3 linked regions of the Homo sapiens genome follow. The protein of the gene in region 2 purifies or fractionates together with the protein of the main gene of each other region. This does not show direct contact. Each region holds a gene or a part of one and is shown on either strand. Other genes may lie near its edges.

Evidence for each region.
Region 1: the proteins of GSTO1 (region 2) and TAGLN2 fractionate together in Homo sapiens (co-fractionation; 2 studies listed by BioGRID). This does not show direct contact.
Region 3: the proteins of GSTO1 (region 2) and NUDT9 fractionate together in Homo sapiens (co-fractionation; 2 studies listed by BioGRID). This does not show direct contact.

The regions. Positions count from the first base shown.
Region 1 is NC_000001.11:159,922,508-159,929,811, forward strand, and holds the start of TAGLN2 (transgelin-2), read right to left. Parts: upstream 3,001-7,304; 5' UTR 2,943-3,000; exon of another isoform or gene 1,972-2,942; intron 1,445-1,971; exon of another isoform or gene 1,371-1,444; intron 1,228-1,370; exon of another isoform or gene 964-1,227; coding exon of another isoform or gene 929-963; intron 1-928. Other genes in the region: IGSF9 (protein turtle homolog A isoform a precursor), read right to left, coding at 4,838-5,019, 5,253-5,380, 5,651-6,511, 6,844-6,886, 7,131-7,304.
Region 2 is NC_000010.11:104,257,869-104,264,894, forward strand, and holds part of GSTO1 (glutathione S-transferase omega-1), read left to right. Parts: intron 1-1,707; coding exon 1,708-1,930; intron 1,931-5,110; coding exon 5,111-5,209; intron 5,210-7,026. UniProt on the Homo sapiens protein: Exhibits glutathione-dependent thiol transferase and dehydroascorbate reductase activities. Has S-(phenacyl)glutathione reductase activity. Also has glutathione S-transferase activity.
Region 3 is NC_000004.12:87,453,547-87,459,955, forward strand, and holds the end of NUDT9 (ADP-ribose pyrophosphatase, mitochondrial isoform a precursor), read left to right. Parts: intron 1-824; coding exon 825-909; intron 910-4,296; coding exon 4,297-4,475; 3' UTR 4,476-5,909; downstream 5,910-6,409.

The sequences.
Region 1 (7,304 bases), on a different chromosome or scaffold from region 2:
CCAGAGGCCACTCCACCATAGAAACCTCTAACCTCTGATGCACAGGGGAATGGCTGGAAGACAGGTAGGAAGAGGAAGGGGCTAAGAGCTACTACCACCAGTAAGCCCCCTTTCCGCAGCCCAGTTCCAGACCTCTCTCCTGGGAGTGGCTGTGCTCAGGGCTGTTTCCAGGGACCAAGTGGCCTGAGGCTCGGGGATCACCATGGCACAGGTAAAGAAAGGGCAGGAGAATGATTAACCTAGACACTGGGGTTAAGAGCAGAGAGAAAGGCCTGAAGCCAGACACTTCCAGTGCCCCCCAACCCCCCAAGGCAGGACAAACTTGGCCTCCCAGACCCACCACTGGGTGGAAAGTGGATGCTGAGGAACCCCCTCCACCGCCCAACGCTGGGGCCTGGACACAGCTGGCAGGGTCACGGCCTCCAGCTGCAGTGTATCTGCTCCACTCTGGGGCCATTGCCCTCAAGCTCTGAGGTGCCAGAGCCATAGGGCGGGGTCCTGAGAAGGGGCAGTTCCAACCAGGCCAGGCCTGGTCAGCAGCTGTTTCTCTTCCCCACCCCCACGGGCAGGCAGAAGCTGATGGGCTGCGGCTGCTGGAGCTGGGAAGGCCCACCCTAGGGACACCCAGGGGACCTGCCCCTGCCTTCCCTCAAACATAAAGAAAACAGTAAGCAAGTTGCCTACCAGGGTGAGAAGAGATATGCCCAGCTGGAAGACAGGTGTGGGGGACCCCCAGAGCTGGGGACCCCAAAGGAAGGTGACAGCTGAACAACCTGGGGGATGGACTGGCAGGGAGCAACCTAAACCCTAGCGCTACTGCAGCTGTGAGAACAACCCTCACCCTCACCCTGGAGTTACAATAGGCGGGAAACGGGGAGGGGCCACGCAAGGCACTCGGCCCCACCCAGACCCTGGGCTGGAAGCTTACCTCACCAAAGCCAAAGCCAAAGAAAAGGCGGACATGGGTGGGGGCAGGGAGGACTTCAGGGTTCTTGGCTAGGGTGTTTAATTGGGAAGACAAAGGGACTCTCCATCCACCGTGCAGATGGAACACAGGAGAACTTCCCAACTCAGATTTGGGACAGGGAGTGTTCTCAAAGAGCAGCACAGTGAGGGCACCAGCCCACAGAGCGAGGTGCCACAGCCAGCAGCAAGGATGGGGGGCGGCCCACAATTAAGGGAACCACCGTAGGGCAGCCCCTCACCACCGAGAGTCAGGAGCAGAAGAGAAAGCTGAGGCTACACAAACAGGAAGCTCCAAAGCTTGCGTGGGAGGAGGGGATGAGGTGGGGGCCGTTGCCATGGCTTCTGTGTACCAAACAGTGTTGGAGGCTGGGTGGGGGCTCCGGGCAGAAACACCCTGTCAACACAGACGTTGTGGTGAGCAGGCTGTGAGCACGGGAGCAGAAGTGGGATCGTCTCAGCAGTGCTCGGGTGTAGCCAGGTGCAAGAGATTATTCCAGGAGACAGCTATAGTGGGGATGGACAGCGTGTGGGGGAAGATAGGAAATGACCCGTGTTGGGGTGAAGAAGAGGACTCAGGAAGTAGTTGTTCAGGAGAAGAAATCCCCTGGGAAGGGAAAGTGTTCTGAGCTAGAGAACCCACAGCTGAAAATTCTGGAGGGAGAAGGGATGGAATGAAGAAAGGATTAGGGGCCAATCCCGGGGTGGGGGACAGGGGCAGAGGCCTTGGGGTGAGGGAGGGAGTTGCGGTTGGACAAAACCTATTTGTTGGTTCTGGAATGGTAGGGCCCTACTGGGCCCGCCCTGCCTTGGCCTCCTCTGCAGTTGTAGGTCTGCCCCTTGTAGTGGGGAGGAGAAACTGGGAGGGGGCTAGAGATAGAGAGCCATTGCTGTCTGGTGCTTTGAAGTCAATGAGAACACTGGGGGAGCCCCGTCCCAGCCGCAGGTCTTCTACATCGAATCCCACACTCCATCCCCACTCTCACCCCGTTTCTCTCTGCCCCACAGATACCAACTGCTCACAGATCTCCCAGGACACCGGCTTCAGGTAGCCCCAGGAGGCACAGGGCGCGGGGGGAGGCGGCAGTCCACCTCCGGTCCTGCAGGTCCGGCCTCCCAGCCGCCGCCCCCCACCCCCACGACCACACCCTGGGCCGTTACAACAGATGAGTCACCCACCGCCCTCCCGCCGCTGGGGTGACGCAGTGGTCTGGGCAGCCCGCCCGTCCGCCCGCGGCCACCACCGGCTTTCCCAGCAGCAGGGGGCACCCGGTGGGGGCAGCGGCGCTCGGGCAGGGTAAAAGCAGCCACCACCACCCCCACAACCTCACACAGGGCACCCCGGGGCGCAGTCAGGGCTGCAGCACCCAGACCCCCGAGGTCAGGGGACCGTCATAGAGATGACTGGAGCTTCACAGAAGGTCACCGTGCGACCCATGCAGAGCCCCCTAGCCCCAGCCCGTGACCTCAAGTCCCCAGAATAGCAAGCTAGCAGGAACAGGAATGAAAAGGGCGGCCTCGGGGACTCAGAGGGCACGCAGTGCTCACACGTGCTCCTGGAACCAGGAAGTGAAGGGTCGCGCGGGAAAGCCCAGGAGCACGAGCTGGCCCAGGGCCGGCGCCACGACCCGGGGTCACTCGGGGCCAGCCAGCTAAAGTCCGACGCCCTTTTTTCCCCTCGCCCCAGTGAGGACTCAGCGATGGAGCCCGCGGGTGGGGCTCAGTCCCTGAGTCCCTGCTCCAGACGGACGCCCTGTCTATGCATGGGCTAACCTCGCCTGACCTCATCGTCCAACAATGTCGGGTCAGGGCTTGGGGACAGGACCTGACAGCACGGGGCGGGGTAAAGTAGTCACCGGACCCTTGCCTGGTACCAGCCCTTGATCCCCGAGCTCGCTGGAGCAAGTTCAAAGCGCTGGCTTCTTGCTTTCTACACAGCACGCACATGTCCCCGACCCCCGTACCCCCGACCTGCTCACCGTTCAAGCGGGCTGGAGAGCGGCGCACTGACTCAAGGCAAGGGCTGCAGCTGCAAGTGGTGCGCCCTGCCCAGCCGGGGATTTTCAGGAGGGTCCCGCCTCAGACGGGGCGGACCCGGGGCGGGGCAAGGGCCAAGAAGGTTTAAAGGCGCCGCAGCGCAGAAGGAGGGAGGACTGCTTGAGACAGAGGGACAGTAGACCAGAGCAAGGGTTAAAGGTTCGGGGAGTCTGAATCTACAAAGGCGGCTGCAGTGGTCTCCACCCGTGAGTACCTCAGCCTCCACCGAGAGCCCGTAGACTTGTGCCCCAGTAGGAAACTTTCTGCCTAGAAAGTTAGCTAAACACTGTGGGCGTGTTTATGTAGGAAGAAGCCTCCTAGTTTAGAGGCTGGCAAGGTAAAAGGAGGCACAGGAAGGCCTTCCCCCGACCCCAACTGACTAGTGTGTGACAGGACTGGGACTTGCAGGCCGGGACAGCACCCCCACGTGATCTTGCTCACCTCTTACTTCAAGCCTGGGCAGGGACTAACAGTGAGGTCACTCTGCCCAGGGCCCTAGGGGTGTTTTCGGTGTTGGGACCCAGGGCTCAGACCTGTCTTCTCCCTGCCTTTCATCTCCTTTTCTATGACCTGGTATCTCTTCCTAAATCCTGGAGGGATCAGAGGGGGAGACCTCAGCGCGAGGAGGCTGGCTGGGGTTCTTTTGTCTCTGAGGGTGGAGGACAGCACAGTTCAGGGGTGGAGAAAGAGCCCCCCATCCTTTCAGGCTTCAGTTGAATAGAGTCCCCCGGGGTGGAGTTCTGCACACATGATAGAGTCCTCCCTTGAACCTGAGATTCCAGGATGTCAATATCCAGTCCTGTCCAACCTTTCTATTATTCTCTGTTCCCTCCCCGAGTCCTACACAGCCCTATATTCCAGTCCCACTGATTGTCAAGCATTCTCACTCTTCTGTGCCTTTACAAAGGCTATTCCTCTGCCTAGGACAGTTTCCCTTCCTTGACTGGCTCCCCACCTGCTCTACCCTTTACCTGCTGTGTGACTGTTGTGCATTCTATGCTTGAGTTCCCTGGTCTATAGAACAGAGCTAATAGTACTACCTAATTCATAGAATTGTAGAGAACTAAACAGTCCACCTATAGGGCTTAGAGCAGTGCCTGGCACATAGTGAATACTATTATTACCACCATCTATCTGTGAGGGTCCTGAGGACTCCCCCCCAATATGTGGCATTTGTCCCAGCACACGATATTAGCGTTCACTAAAGGTGGCCTTGAATGCAACATCTTCCTTTGTGCTACAATAACCAACACATAGCTTTATCACGGAACTTATCATACGGTAACTATTTCTTTGTCCGCCTCACTGACTAGAAAGAACTCCTCAAGGGCAAAGGCGTGCTTCCAGAGCTTTGTATTTTCTCAGTATCTACTTCAGTGGCTGGCCTTTAGTAGCTGGCCTCCGTAAGCACTCAATAAATGTTCTTGAATGAATGCTGAATGCACCTCCATTTATTCAAGAAGATTCTCCTCTTCTTTAAGGGTCCAGGGATTTTCCTGGCACTCTCTCAAAGACAGATAACACACAGAAACATCTTTCAAACTTTGTTTATTCACCTGTAAAAAACTTCACACACACACACACACACACAGAGAGAGAGAGAGAGAGAGAGAGAGAGAGAGAGGCAGACCTAAGATCCCTGTTCCAATCCCCAGACTCACCTAGGGGGTCAGCACATACATTCCATACCAAGGTGACCCAAACCCACTATCAGGGTCTGTGCCTGGGCACCAAAGGGGCAGGCAGGGGCAGTGCCCTCGTTTGAAACTAGGTCTGTCTGGTTGGGGGCCTCCTTTGCAGGTCCATATGCCTTTTCACAGCCTCACATCAGGGATGTTCACAGCAGAGTGGCCTGTTCGGGGTGGGGGACTGGCTGTCGATAGGCTGGTAGCCGAGCCCTAGTAGCATCTCGGCGGCGGCGGAAGGCCAGGAATTCCTCCCGAAGGGCAGCACAGCGGGCCTCAGGGCCAGTAACATGGGCAGTGTTCAGGAGGCAGCCCTCCTCTGGAGTCTTCACACCTGCAAGAGGCGGGCAGGACAATGAGAAGAAGCCCTGAGGTTCACTGAGTGAAGAGCTCAGATGTGAAGCTCGCTAGGCCCTTCCAGTACAGATGGCCCAAGGGGGCAAGGCACAGTCTAGAGCAGAGGAGCCTGGGAGGCAGGGCCTGACTGGGAATAGATGGGTCCTAAGGTGGCGGGGGGATGTGGGACAGTATGGCCGAGATGCCTGCCTTTCCGGGGGGCTCACACACCTAGCTCTGGCTCAGCTTCAGGTCTGAGCCGGGAGCTGGCCAAGCCCAGGTGCAAAGTCTCCAGCAATTCCATGTCCCCAGGGAATTCTGAGTCCCACTCATAGTTCTCGTCCACAGATGTGTTCCTCCTGTAAAAAAAAAAAAAAAGACAAACATATGGTGTGGGTGGAGGAATAGAGGCTGTTCAGAAAAGTCTGAATTCAGCGACCGCAAACTCACGTTAGGTCATGGGTTTCCCCTGAAAAATCCCTGGACCTCAGCAAAAGCTTCTAAAAGGGACAAGTTTTCCCGTTCCCAGGGTGGGAGTGGAGCAGAGAAGGTGCAGGGTATTGGGAGAGGGGTGAGAGGTCTGGGGTGGGACTGAGGCGGAGGCAGGGATGGGCAGGGACTGCTCTCACCTCTTGCTGACTGTCACCACATGCTCCCTTCGGGGCCATCTCTCAGGGCCACTGGCCCAGCTGCTGGTGTCTCCTGGAGCAGGGCTGAGGTAGCTGCCTCCTGCAGAGGGGGCTGTGGAGGGGGGCCGCAGGAACGAAGCGCTGCCTCGCCCACTGCTCTGGCTGGTGAGGCTGCCTCGAGGGGCAGCAGGGAGAAGGCCTGGCAGCAGCCGCTCCCTCAGTGTCCAGTCAGCCAGGGCTGTGTAAGGGGGCTCTGCAGTGGCCCCAGCCCCTACCACAGCCCCAGGAAGTGATTCCCTGGGGGATACAGGAGGGGTTTCTGGAGAACGAAGGAAAGATGAGGTGGGACAGCGCCGGGTATCCATGTAATCTGGGGGTGCAGCAGGGCTGGGCTCCTCAAGCGGGGGCCAGTCCCCATCCACATTCATCTCTCGGAAGAAGGGCAGGCTCAGGTACTGGAGCAGGGGTCCAGGACCTGGCAAGGGACTGGGTGGGGCTGCTGGAGGGGGTGCCACAGGGCTGATGTCTTCAATGCAGAGGGGCTGGGGTGCCCCACTGGGGCTGCTGCTGCTACAGTCAAAGGACCGGGCCAGACGCTGGGCTGGAGTCCGAGGTTCTGCCTGCTCCCGGCCTGACCTTTCCTGGGGGGCCGCCACAGTGGGCCCCATCACAAAGCGCCCGTCTGGGCCCCGGCAAATGGGCTCCAGAGGTAAGGGTCCCCGGCTAGATGGAGGATCCGGGTGGGGGCTGGGAGTTCCGGCAGGATCCCCCCAGAGCAGACTCTGGCGCAGGCTGGGGACTGGGGATCCCTGGAGCTTCAGCTTCGCCACGCTGTCAGGACTGCCTGAGCCCAGAGCAGAGCTGGGGAAGGACAGGAGATCAGGGTCTGTGGTAGGGGCAGGTCCCCCTCCCAGGAGCCAGCGTCAGGCCTTGAGAGGTTTGGTGAACAACAGAGCAGAGCTAGGAAGAACAAGCGAGGAAAGGACCAACAAGGTGGAGGGGTGGAGGGAAGGCACAGGCCATACTGGAACGGCCTCAGGCTGGGGCCACTGCACACCCCTTCTTACCCTCTCCCACTTTTGTTCCTCCCCAACACCCAACATCCCCCTGGTAAAGATGCAAAAAAGGAAGCAGAAGATACTGGCACGTACAATGGAAAGGCAGAAGAAAGCCAAGGAGGTGGAGGCACTTACGGTGCAGCTGACTTCCCGGTCGGAGAGAAGATAAGAGGTGGATCTGGAAGGGCATGAGAATAGTAGGTGACACAGGCAAAAATCAAGGCCCTCTAGGCGGAGACTCTCTCACCCAACACCAGGCGCCCAACCCCATCCGGCTGGGAAAAGCGTAGGCAGGACCAGATGCAGGACTAAGAGAATGCACCTGGATCACACAGGAGCGAGGGCTTTTCCCCCAGGTAGGAGGGGCTTAAGGAGGCTAGGCCCAAGTGCGCAGTAGCAGGGCTGAGGGTGGAGGGACTTACCTTGGCGGAGGCGCTTGCGGCGGCGGCGGGCAGCCCTGCGCCGGTTCAGGAGGCAGCCGGCCAGGATGCTCACAAGGACGGCCACTCCCAGAAAGCAGACTCCGCCCACCACGCCGGCCAGCACGGGCTGAGGCAGGAGGCCCGGCAGCTGCGTGCGCGAAGGGTAGACCTCCA
Region 2 (7,026 bases):
TGAAATATTTCAAAACAAAAATATTTACTGAGTCCTTATTTGAAACTTTTTATTTTCTTCAGAGCATTTATATCTATATAGCATTTTGCTCATTTACATGTTTGTTTATTACTATGAACAGATACACAAGATCCCACCTTTCGTGAAGCTTACATTCTAGGAAGATAACAAACTTGTAAATAAGTGAGCAAAGTAATTTCAGATACATATTATCAGTTCAATGAAGAAAGTAAAACATGATAATCATGTAATAGAAGCTGCTCAGCAACTTCAGAGCTATGGTCAGGGAGGGCCTGGGGATGTGTGTTTGACCTGGGAAGACCTGGGAAAAGGCAGGCAGAGGAGGCAGAGGACCATCAAGTGCAAAGACTCTAAGGTGGAAACACATTTGGCAAATTCAAGGAATATAAAAACCGCCAACGTGTAAAAGAAAACATAGGGGAAAAGCTTCATGACACTGGCCTTGGCAATGATTTCCTGGACATGACACCAAAGACCAGGCAACAAGACCAAAAATAAACACATGAGACTACAGCAAACAAGCTTCCACACAGCAAAGGAAACGATTAACAGAGCAAAAAGGCAACCTATGGAATAGGAGAAAGTACTTGCAAACCACATACCTGGTAAGGGGTTAATCTCCAAAATACATAAGGAATCTCTACAACTCAACAACAAAAAAACCTGATTTTAACATGGGCTAAGATCTTACATAGACACTTCTCAGGCTGGGCATGGTAGCTCACGCCTATAACCCCGAGGCAGACAGTTCACTTGAGCCCAGGAGTTCAAGACCAGCCTTGGCAACATGGCAGAATCCTGTCTCTACAAAGAAATTAGCTGGGTGTGATGGTGCACGCCTGTGGTCCCAACTACTCGGGAGGTAGGAGGATCGCTTTAGCCCAGGAGGTCGAGGCTGCAGTGAGCTGCGATCAAGCCACTGTACTCCAGTCTGGGAGACAGAGTGTCAAAAAAAATTAAAAATTAAAAAAATAGACATTTCTTCAAAGAGGATATAAAAATGGGCAACACATATATGAAAAAGTTCTTATCACTAATCATCAGGAAAATGCAAATCAAAATCACATAATAACCTCACACTTGTCAAGATGACTATAATGAAAAAAGACAAGTGTTAGCAAGGATGTGTAGAAATCAGAACCTTTGCACACTGTTGGCGGGAATGTAAAATGGTACAGCTGCTATGGAAAACAGTATAGATGTTCTTCAAAAAATTAAAACTAGAACTACCATGTGATTCAGCAATCTCACTACTGGGTATATATCCAAATTAAATGAAATCAAGTTCTCAAAGAGATATTAGCACTCTCACGTAGACTGCAGCACTGTTCACAACAGCATAATGTCAATGTCCATCAGCAGATGAATGGATAAAGAAAATGTGTTAATGCTATTCCACCTAAAAAGGAAGGAAATTCTGCAATATGTGACAACATGGATGGACATTGCGGACATTATGCTAAGTAAAATAAGCCAGACACAGAAAGACAAATACTGCATGATTGTTCTTAAAAGGTGTATCAAAAGTAGTCAGATTCATAAAATCAAAAACTAGAATGGAAGGAATCTAGGCAGACTCCTAAATTTGGGGTCTGATCAGCTAAGTGGATGGCAAAGCCAGTGAGAATTTATCCAAAAGCACAAAAGTTGTTTCCTTCTCTTCATAGTCTCCTATGTGTCTTTCAGGCATGAAGTCATCAATATCAACCTGAAAAATAAGCCTGAGTGGTTCTTTAAGAAAAATCCCTTTGGTCTGGTGCCAGTTCTGGAAAACAGTCAGGGTCAGCTGATCTACGAGTCTGCCATCACCTGTGAGTACCTGGATGAAGCATACCCAGGGAAGAAGCTGTTGCCGGATGACCCCTATGAGAAAGCTTGCCAGAAGATGATCTTAGAGTTGTTTTCTAAGGTTTGTGCATAAGAAATTTCAGCTCCTATTTGAAAAACCTGTTTTTTAAAGCGAAATCAGTGCTGCCATTTATGGTTCAGTGATTTGGGAGAGAAAAACAAAACAGGAATATGCTTGTCAGCTCTGAGTGTCCTGCAAGTCCTTTCACGATCCAGTTCCTGTTTACCTCCAAAATTATCCCTTTTCACTCGTCTCCTGACACTTTATATATGCCAGCCATACTAAACTTTTCTCAGAATTCCCAAATTCGCCCCTTTCTCTTTCAATTCTTGCTGTCAGATTCTTCCCACTTCTCACTGTGCCTGGTTATCTCCACGTCATTTTTCACATGTCTGCTCCGACACTGCTGCCTTTTCAGGAGCTTGGCAGGCTGGTTAGTGCTCTAGCTTCTGAGTTCCCATCCGTGTGAACTTTTGCCTGCCTTCTTGCCTGTGTACTGCACTGGGGCTGTGAGCTCCTTGAGGGTGAGGGCTGTGTTTTGATCACTGTTAGTTCACTGCCTAGTTTTATGACTGGCTCTGCTACTTTCTTGTGACTCTGAGCAAGTTACTTATTACTTTGCCTCTCCGTTCATCATTGGTAAAATGGATATAGTAATTGTTCCCACCTCATAAGATAAAAATCAGTTAATATAAAACACCCAGAACAGAGTCTGACACATGGGAACTACTTAATTCTTGTCCTTATAGCCATAGCATCAAGCAGTGAGCATCTACTTTGTGTTGGCAATAACTCAGATGACTGAATAAATAGCAATCCTGTAGAAGAACTGTTTGTACCTTACTTAGCATCAACACTGTGGATTAGTTCAAACAATTAGTATTAACAAAGAAATGACTAAAAGATGTGTGTTTAGACACCAAGAATAGCATGTCTGGTTATATGCCTATAACATTGTCACCTTGGTAGTACGGTCAGTATATAAAGGATTATCTTTAGAGAAAAAGATGGTTAAAGAAATGCCCTAAGAGAGAGTTATAGGGAAAACATTCTGTTTTAGGAGACATTATAAAGGGAAGCCAATGGGACAGGAAGAGTGAGTCATCTGCTTAGTAAGATGAGGGTGAAAGAATAGTAGAGGCGGCTGCTGTGAAAGATAATGTAAAGGGAACATGACATTTTCAAGAACGATGTGGGAGAGTTTTACAAAGTAGTAACAAGTTAAAGGCATGCAGCTTCAAGACACGAAGTCATCAATACCAACCAAAAAAAATAAGCCTAAGTGGTTCTTAAAGAAAAATCTCTTTGGTCTGGTGCCAGTTCTGGAAAACTTTTTTTAGTATGGCTGGAATATAAAGTGTCAGGAGAAGAGATAAAAGGGGTAACTTTGGAGAGGTAAACAGGAACTGGATCGTGAAAGGACTTGTAGGACACGTCAGAGAAAATGAGCTTTAAAAGTAAAGCTTTTAGACATGAAGCTTTACTTTCATGCATAAAGCTACTACTTTAAAAAGTAGTCACAAGAGATTCATTGTACTATCTAGAAAGAAAATGAGATTTAAAAGTAATGCTGAAGATGCCCACCTTTACTTCCCTGCTTGGGTTTTAAAGGAGAGGTGGCTTTATGTACATATGACCCTGCTCTCCTGGCCACAGCCCATCAGAACAGAAATGTACCCCACCCCACACACCTGGGCCAGTTATCTTCTCTCCTGGGAACTTGGAAATGAGACACAGAACTAAGACAGTAAAGGTTAGGACAGTAAAGACAACTAAGCGTTGGGGCTCAAATAATGTTAATTAGAGGCTAGAAAAACCAAAGCCACTTAAGAAATAAATTTTTAGAGGAGCAAGAATTAAAAACATTGCAAAGGGACTGAAGTATGCAAAGTAATATGGAGCAGAAATGTGAGGAAAAACAGACGAAAGACCAGGCAGACCCAGGTGGAAATGTGGATGAAAGGGCTGCCTGAAAGCCTTCAGTCCCAGTGAAGGCAGGCTGAACTGATGTGGATGGGATTTCATGGGATTCTATATTTTTACAAGTGCCTGTTTACTTAAACTAGGATGAGTGGACTTCTGCGTCTTGCAATAAAATGATACCAAAGACCAAAGTATTAAAACACATAAACACCATCACGAGCATTAAAGCATCTGATGCTACACCCATCAAGTCTTTAGGTAGTCGGTCCCTTTTGAACAGTCTCCTGGTGTCCTCCCCAACAAAGAAATCAGAAAAATTTTCTTCCCTAGCTCTTTGCAGTTGGGGCCAAGTTTTGTGACCTAGGCTCTTCCTGTCAGACACACACATAGAGTTCAAATCAGAAACGAGCAAGGTAAGGAAACAGGCTTGGTGGGATATCTGCTTAAGATATTCAGCTCTCCACTGGTTTTCCTGGTGAGAGCAGCGGCAGAGCTTCTGGGTTTCAGCAGTGTGGGTTACAAGATAAAATTCCAGAGTAGAAATGGCATCAGTGCCAGTGGTGTTAGCAGTTATCTCAGACTCTACTTTCTGGCAGCCTCACAAACTGAAGCATCTGGTGCTCAGCTTGGACTGGCAGCAGTGAGTGCTTCCCATTAGGCCATTTCTCAGCATGAATTTGGGATGTTCTGTCTTAATTCCAAGCCTGTTTGTTCCGCCTCCCAATAATTCTATGAGCCACTCAGTCTCCTTTAAAGAAAGTTGTGTTGGCCGGGCGTGGTGGCTCAAGCCTGTAATCCCAGCACTTTGGGAGGCTGAGGCAGATGGATCACCTGAGGTCAGGAGTTTTCAGACCAGCCTGGCCAATATGGTGAATCCCCATCTCTACTAAAAATACAAAAATTAGCCTGGCGTGGTGGCGCACGCCCATAATCTCAGCTACTAAGGAGGCGGAGACAGGAGAATTGCTTGAGCCCGGGCAGTGGAGGTTGCAGTGAGCTGAGATCGTGCCACTGCATTCCAGCCTGGGTGATAGAGCATGACTCCATTTCAAAAAAGAAAGAAAGTTGTTTCTTAAACGTGCCAGGGTAGCTTCTGTTATTTGTAATTTATAAAATCCTGACCAAGCCAGCATTTTAGGCCACAAAACTGTTCCTAAGACCAGTCCATTACCTCTGTGAGCGCAGGAACTTGATGCACCCTTGGTGTTTCTAGAACACCTTGACACCAGGACTGTAAGGGTTCTACCATATTTTTATGTGAGGGGGCCGATACAGTTAGCCATAAACTGATAAACTAAGAAATTATTCTCTGTCTAGGTGCCATCCTTGGTAGGAAGCTTTATTAGAAGCCAAAATAAAGAAGACTATGCTGGCCTAAAAGAAGAATTTCGTAAAGAATTTACCAAGCTAGAGGAGGTAATTATTTCTCCTAGCTATCATCAGAGTAAACGATAACTATATCTACCCTCCTTTTCCTCCTATTCTTTTCTTTATATTCCCACTTTCCAAGTCACTTTAAGGTAATTAGGAAAATTCCCCTAAACATTTTTGTTTACAGCAGACTGCTGTTATAAAGCAGAAAGCTGTCCTGCTTAAGATATAAATCAAAACACCTAAACAGACTTTGTCATGGGCTTGCTTTTAAAATATTCTGCTAATGTTAAAATAACAAGGAAAAAGGAAATTGTACCCACGTTTCCACAAGTTTTTATGTATCCAGTTTTCCATGCTTGTTTGCAGTCCTTGTCCATATATTTAAAAAAAATTAATATAGCTCTAATCAGAGCATAGATATCATTCTGTGTCCTGCTTTTTTTCCTGTGTCCACTTAGTATTACATACTAAATATTTCCCACCAGAAAAAGTTTGCAATGAACAGTACAGACACTTGAGGGAAGCCCAGATGTATTTTACCTTCTTTTGGGGACAGCTGACATTTGGGCCTTGGAGTCTGTCTCTTGGCCTTGAAATATTTCATTCATGCTAAGCCTGAAGTTTTTACTGACAGAAGACATAGTTCCTGTCTTTCATGGGAATGCATTTTAACATTTTATCAGTAAGCATGATGTTTGCTGTAGGTTTTTCAGAAACCTTTTTTTCATTATAAAGTTCTCTTCTATTACTAGTTTGCTAATTTTTAAAAAAGTCATAAATGTTGAATTTTATTGAATGGTTTTTCTGCATCTGTTACATCTATTGAAATGTTCATAGAATTTTTTCCTCTTAATCTGGTGAATATGGTGCTATTGACAAATTTTTTTTTTTTTAATGTTTAACCATCCTAGCATTCCTAAGATAAAACCTACTTGTTCTCTATGGATTTTTATATGTACTGTAGAATTAGCTAATGAATGATTTTTGTATGTGTGTTCATAAATGAGATTGGCCTATAAATTTTCTACTCTTATAGTATCATTATTGGCTTTTGGTTTCAAGGATATTCTGACCTCATAAAATGAGTTGGGTAACTAACCTGTTTTTCTAATCTCTGAAACCATTTGGTAGGGACTAGCGGTTTCTTTAAAACATTTGAGCCTGGTGTCTTTAACAGGGGTAGATTTTTCATTACTAGTTTGATTTCTTTAATGGTAATTGGTTTTTTGGTTTTATATTTCTTCTTGAATCAGTGTTGGTACTTTTATATTTTTCTGCTGAACAGTGTGGGAGCTGGAAAGTAAGATGCAGTCCATATTCTTCAGATAATTAGTTTAGTAGTAGACAGAACACAGTAGGTAGATATAAGCAATCTAAAATGCATATTATGCATTGAAAAAAAACTATGGAGGTTATTTATAAAGGGCAAATTAGTTTGGTGGTTTAAATAGCCAGATAATATTCTCAATCACCCCCTTTGGCAAACCCTGTAACCAATTCGCCTTCTTAAAATTTCAGAAACATACAATTTGTGTTTTGTTTTCAAATGATTGTCATCTGTTTAGCAGTTAATCCAGTCTATTTCCAGTATATTTTAAGTACAAATGCTTTTGCACTTACAATGGGGTTACATCCAATAAACCCACCGTAAGCTGAAAATATCATAAGTGGAAAATGCATTTAATAAACCCAACCTACAGAGCATCATAGCTTAGCCTAGCCTGCTTTAAATGTGCTCAGAAAACTTCCATTAGCCTGCAATTAGGCAAAATCATCAAACATAAAACCATCAAACATAAAATATTTATAAAGTGTTGAATATCTCATATAATTTATCGAATACCTGCATCCAAAAGATG
Region 3 (6,409 bases), on a different chromosome or scaffold from region 2:
AGCCTCCTGAGTAGCTGGGACTACAGGTGTTCTCCACCATGCCCAGCTAATTTTTGTGTTTTTAGTAGAGACGAGGTTTCACCATGTTGGCCAGGATGGTCTTGATCTCTTGACCTCATGATCCGCCCACCTCCGCCTCCCAAAGTGCTGGTATTACAGGCATGAGCCACCACGCCTGGCCTGAGGGTTTCATGATTTTTAAAGCTGCCTCAAAAGAGAATATTGTTCTTTGGGAAATTTGAAACAAGCACATGAAGTACTACATTAAAAGTTTTATGATATTTACATTTCTTTCTTTTTTTCTTTCTTTCTTTCTTTTTTTTTTTTTTTGAGACAGAGTCTCGCTGTGTTGCCCAGGCTGGAGTGCAGTGGCGCGATCTTGGCTCACTGCTACCTCCACCTCCTGGGTTCAAGTAATTTCTCCTGTCTTAGCCTCCCGAGTAGCCGGGACTACAGGCACCTACCACCATGCATGGCTAATTTTTTTTGTATTTTTAGTAGAGACAGGGTTTCACCTTGTTGGTCAGGCTGGTCTCGAACTCCTGACCTCAGGTGATCCACCCGCCTCAGCCTCCCAAAGTGCTGCGATTACAGGCGTGAGCCACCGCGCCCGGCTATTTACATTTCTTTAAAAAAATTTTGATAGAAACACATAATGTCAAATTTACCATCTAAACTGTTGAAGGTACAGCTCAGTAGCATTAAGTATGTTCATGTTGTTGGGCAACAGGATATTTACATTTCTGATGCTAGTGAAGGTAACATGCTCTGCTGTACTCACTACACCTTGGACTTTTAAAAAATTTGTCTTCTTTTGAAAATAGATATATAAGGGATATGTTGATGATCCTCGAAACACTGATAATGCATGGATGGAGACAGAAGCTGTGAACTACCATGACGAAACAGGTAACTTTATATTTATTAAACTGGCTGGGATTAAAGGATCAATTTAAGCCATTAGCCCACTAAGGCATGATTAAATCTGGACTATTTAGCATCTTAAACCAATTAACTGTTGATTGTAGGACTGTAGTTATATGAAAGCAAAATTGTTGGTATTAAAGGAATACATAGAAGAAATCTTCAAAACTTTTATCACCAGTGACTAAATTTTCTTTAATCCATTGGTAACATTTGAAATTAAGGATGAAATTATGGGCTAAAATGATATGCTTTAAAGATGTCAGATTATTTATTGAGTATAGTTCCCTTTTTTTGCAAAACAAAAGCAACTGGGATTTGGGTAGGAAGTATGGCAATGATAAAGGAAATGGGATTTATATCTTACTATTTCAAATATTTTTATAATAATCTTGGATTGTTAATACACAAAGCAATAACAAAAAATTCCAAGTACTGAAAAAATTTTAAATGAATGCTGTTTCTGGTGTATGGAATTTAAAATTTTATGAGGAGGGTCAAACCTGTTATTACAGAAGGAGAAAGGAAAAATCTGCTGTCTTAAAAATTAATTTGGTCTTAATGTACACATTGAATGGCTCCCTTGAAACATATTTTATTGCTAAATTTGATTTGTTTTTATTTGTAGCATAAAAGTGGGGGCACCATGCTAGAGAAATGAAATGAATGTTCCACTCATAGTTCTTTCTGAGCTGTGTAACCTTGTACAAATCATTTGTCCTCTTGGACTCAGTTTTTTCACTTACAAAATGGGCTAGAACTAGATCTGTCATTTCCATATCCTGTGCTTTTGCTTGTTGAACTTGGAGGAAACTCCTGGGACCATTTTCTATTCCTGTATTTCCACTAAGGTGTATTAGAAGAGTTTATCCTAGTATGAAAACTTAGAAGAAATATGCAGATGTAAATTAGAAGCAGGTCTGTACAACTTTAGTACTGATAAATTTGTTAACTACTTTAAAGTTTTGGAGTTAAAAACAATGACTGATCCTCCAGAAGTTGATTATAGAGTTTATGGATTGTTCACTGTTTTTACCCTATCTTTTTCTCTCTTTAAACTTAAAAAATTTTGTTTTGATAATTCCAAAATCTCTGCCATATTTGAGTTCGGTTTTAATATTTGCTTTGTTTCTTTAGGCTATGTTTTTTGCCTTTTAGCGTGCTTTTAGTGCTTTTTTTTCTTTTTTCTTTTTTTTTTTTTTTAACCCCGAGATGGAGTCTTGCTCTGTCACCCACGCTGGAGTGCAGTGGCATGATAATGGCTCACTGCAACCTCTGCCTCTCGGGTTCAGGCGATTCTCCTGCCTCAGACTCTCAAGTAGCTGGTACTACAGGCATGCACCACCATGCCTGGCTAATTTTTGTATTTTTAGTAGAGATGGGGTTTCACCATGTTGGCCAGGCTGGTCTCAAACTCCTTACTTCAGGTAATCCACCCACCTTGGCCTCCCAAAGTGCTGGGATTACAGTCATGAGCCACTGCGCCTGGCTGTAGTGCTTTTTTGAAAATTGACCATGATATAACTTGTAAGGGAACTAAGGCAAATAGTTCTTTAGCGTGAGGTTTTATGTTTATCTGGCTAGGAGTTAGGCTGTGTTTTTTGTTTGCTGTCATTGTATGTGTCAGAGGCTAAAATTTCCTCTAGTTTTGGGTTTCCCTGGAGACTTATTAAATGAGGTCTGAAGCATGCCCTTCTTTCAGCTGTCTTCCCCTTTTATTAAACAGGAGTCCTATTGATAGATATGGTGGTAAATTCTAGAGGAAGGGGAATCATAGGAGAATATATGGTTAGATGTCAGTCTTTTAGTGAGCCTGTGGCCCTGGGCTGTGACCCTTCATATGTTATTCTCAGCTTCCCTCCTTCCTCCCCAATCCTTAGGAAAGACAGGAAATCCAGCGGGGGCTGGAGTTGGGTATTTCCTTTCCCTCAGGTTGCTTAGGGCTTGGTAAAATAGTTTTCCTTGAGGGCAGAGTGATCTGGGTGTATTTGAAATTGGTTACCTTTCCCCTCTCCATGTTAGAAAGGAGAGAGGATTTTTCTCCAGTCTTCACCTGGTGGCTTTCTTGGAGGTAAAGCTCACTAAAATGTAGGCCCCCTCTTCATACTGGTATGGCTGACCCCCTAGGAGATTTTATCTTTCAAGCTAGTCCAAAGGTCAGCTTTCAGCAGTTAGTTACCCTTTAAGTGTTCCTACCAGGTGCTGACTCCAGCGGTAGGCTTCTCTCCCTGGTCAGTTGTGATTCTCTGTATTTGCCTGTCTCTCCAGTTTTTGGTATGGCAGTGTGGTCTCTACTAAGAATACAAAAAAATTAGCTGGGCGTGGTGGCAGATGCCTGTAATCCCAGGTACTCGGGGGGCTGAGGCAGGAGAATCGCTTGTACTCAGGACGCGGAGGTTGCAGTGAGCCGTGATTGTGCCACTGCACTTCAGCCTGGTCAACAACAGCGAGACTCCATCTAAAAATAAATAAAATAAAATAAAATATTTAAGTAATGTTGCCTTGAATACTTTAATAGGCTTGTCTCTATTTCATCAGAATAAATTCTTCAAAGAGGAATTACTGGATTGCTTATTGTATCTTCAGTGCCTAGTACAGTCTGGCACACAAGATGCACTCTGATATTTACAGAATGAGTGCTTGTCAAAGAAAACTTACTTTTTAAAAGCTCTTGATAAACATTGCCAAATTTCCTACAGAAATATTCCATTTATATTCCCAGCAGTGATTGGGAGCACTTATTTTTTATTTTTTTGATAATTTAAATTTTTTTTTTTTTTTTTTGAGGTGGAGTCTCACCCTGTTGCCAGGCTGGAGTGCAGTGGTGTGATCTTGGCTCACTGCAACCTCCACCTCATGGATTCAGACAATTCTCTTGCCTCAGCCTCCCAAGTAAGCTGGGACTGCAGGCATGTGCCACCACTCCTGGCTAATTTTTGTATTTTTAGTAGAGATGGGGTTTCACCATGTTGGCCAGGCTGGTCTCGAACTCCTGACCTCAGGTGATCTACCCGCCTCAGCTTTGTTTATTTTTTTACATTTAAATCTCTCATCCCTCTTGGACTGATTTTGATGTAAGGTTTCATATTCATGTAATATAATCTCGTTTTTAAGGATAATCTTTTTAGAGAAAACTCTTTGTGTTTATCTAAAATTTAGGGACTTGGTTAAAATTTGGACATTTTGGAATACTCTAGTTTTTTTTCTTTTATTCATTCTGCTGACCAGGGATGGAATGGTCTAGTTTTTAATTCACTTGGCCGGCTAGTACAATGATGATATAAGATTATTTTAAATAAGAATACTTGACGACATAGATATGCTAAAACAGAAATGAGTTTTTCTTGGTGATGGTTTTTCTTTGGCAACCAGGTGAGATAATGGATAATCTTATGCTAGAAGCTGGAGATGATGCTGGAAAAGTGAAATGGGTGGACATCAATGATAAACTGAAGCTTTATGCCAGTCACTCTCAATTCATCAAACTTGTGGCTGAGAAACGAGATGCACACTGGAGCGAGGACTCTGAAGCTGACTGCCATGCGTTGTAGCTGATGGTCTCCGTGTAAGCCAAAGGCCCACAGAGGAGCATATACTGAAAAGAAGGCAGTATCACAGAATTTATACTATAAAAAGGGCAGGGTAGGCCACTTGGCCTATTTACTTTCAAAACAATTTGCATTTAGAGTGTTTCGCATCAGAATAACATGAGTAAGATGAACTGGAACACAAAATTTTCAGCTCTTTGGTCAAAAGGAATATAAGTAATCATATTTTGTATGTATTCGATTTAAGCATGGCTTAAATTAAATTTAAACAACTAATGCTCTTTGAAGAATCATAATCAGAATAAAGATAAATTCTTGATCAGCTATAACTTCTGTTTCATCTAGTTCTTGTTTGTCAATGCCTTCCCTCCCGCTCCCCATCTTCTGAGGCCTGAAGGATGTTCCTGCCACATCAAACTCCTTTAGGCAGAGTACCGCCACTGGATGTATAGTTTAATGTTTCATCTGATTTTTCTTTAAATTATTTCCTTCACATTTTGCTTCACATGATCTTGTTGAAGCTAATTTTGAAAATGGAAACTATGTTTTCTTGACTTTAGAAGCATTAGTTTTAAGAGGAAATTTCAGCCACTAGTCAATAGAGATCAAAATCAGTGAACAAGAGCTGATACTCTCATTTTCAAAAATTCTGAATTAAAAAAAGTCCAGGAAGTTAGTAATTTAAATCAGTATGTTCATTTCACTCTAGTGAAACTACTATATGTTGTAAATTAGTTAAAAATGGATGTTCAGAAAAGAATTGAAATCAGGACAAAAAATTACAGATGCTAGTGAGGTTGTAGAGAAAAAGGAATGCTTATACGCTGTTAGTGGGAGTGTAAATTGGTCCAACCATTGTGGAAGAGAGTGTAGAGAGTCCTCAAATATTTAAAGATATTTGACCCAGTAATCCCATTACTAGGTATATACCCGAAGGAATATAAATTGTTCTATTATAAACACATACTCACGTGTATGTTCATTGCTGCACTATTCACAATAGCGAAGACATGAAATCAACCTAAATGTTCATCAGTGATAGACTGGATAAAGACAATGTGGTATATGTACACCATGGAATACTATGCAGCCGTAAAAAAGAATAAGATCATGTCCTCTGAAAAGACATGGGTGGAGCTGGAGGCCATTATCCTTAGCAAACTAATGCAAGAACAGAAAACCAAACACTGCATGTTCTCTTATAAGTGAGAGCTAAATGGTGAGAACACATGGACATGGGAACAACACATTCTGGGGTCTATTGGAGGGTGGGAGGAGGGAGAGGATCAGGAAAAATAACTAATGAGTACTAGGCTTAATACCTTGGTGATGAAATTATCTGTACAACAAACCCTCATGACACAAGTTTACCTATGTAACAAACCTGCACATGTACCCCTGTACTTAACAACAAAATAAACACAAAGGAAAATGTTAGCCATGTGTGAATTTTAAACTTCTTGGTAGTCACATTAAAAATAAAAAGAAACAAGTAAAATGGTTTGTAATTATTTAATCCATTATATCCAAAATATCTTAATATGTGATCAATATATAATTATTAAGTAATTATTTTGGTTCTATAAAAACAGGAACAGAGGTGGAGGTCTCTGTGAGTTAGTGTTTTTTTGTTAGGAAAGAAATGTTAAAGATTGAAATAGATTTTTGAGAAAAGCATGGTTAATGTTATAAATCCCAGAGGAAAGGAGGGGGTTGGTGCTTTGGGGGTTTTTGGAAGCAAGGAAAAGGAAAGAAAAGTAGTACTGCCTTGTCTTAGTGGACATGTTTATCTCATTCTGGCTAAGGATCTCTGTTGGAAAGCCCTGTGATAGGAACTCCTATCCACCTAAGTAGGGTTGGGCTATAGCTGGAGCATCTCAGGAAAAGCTTTAGGGGAGACAGACATTATTGTTTTCTTTCCTTCAGATGTTTGAAAA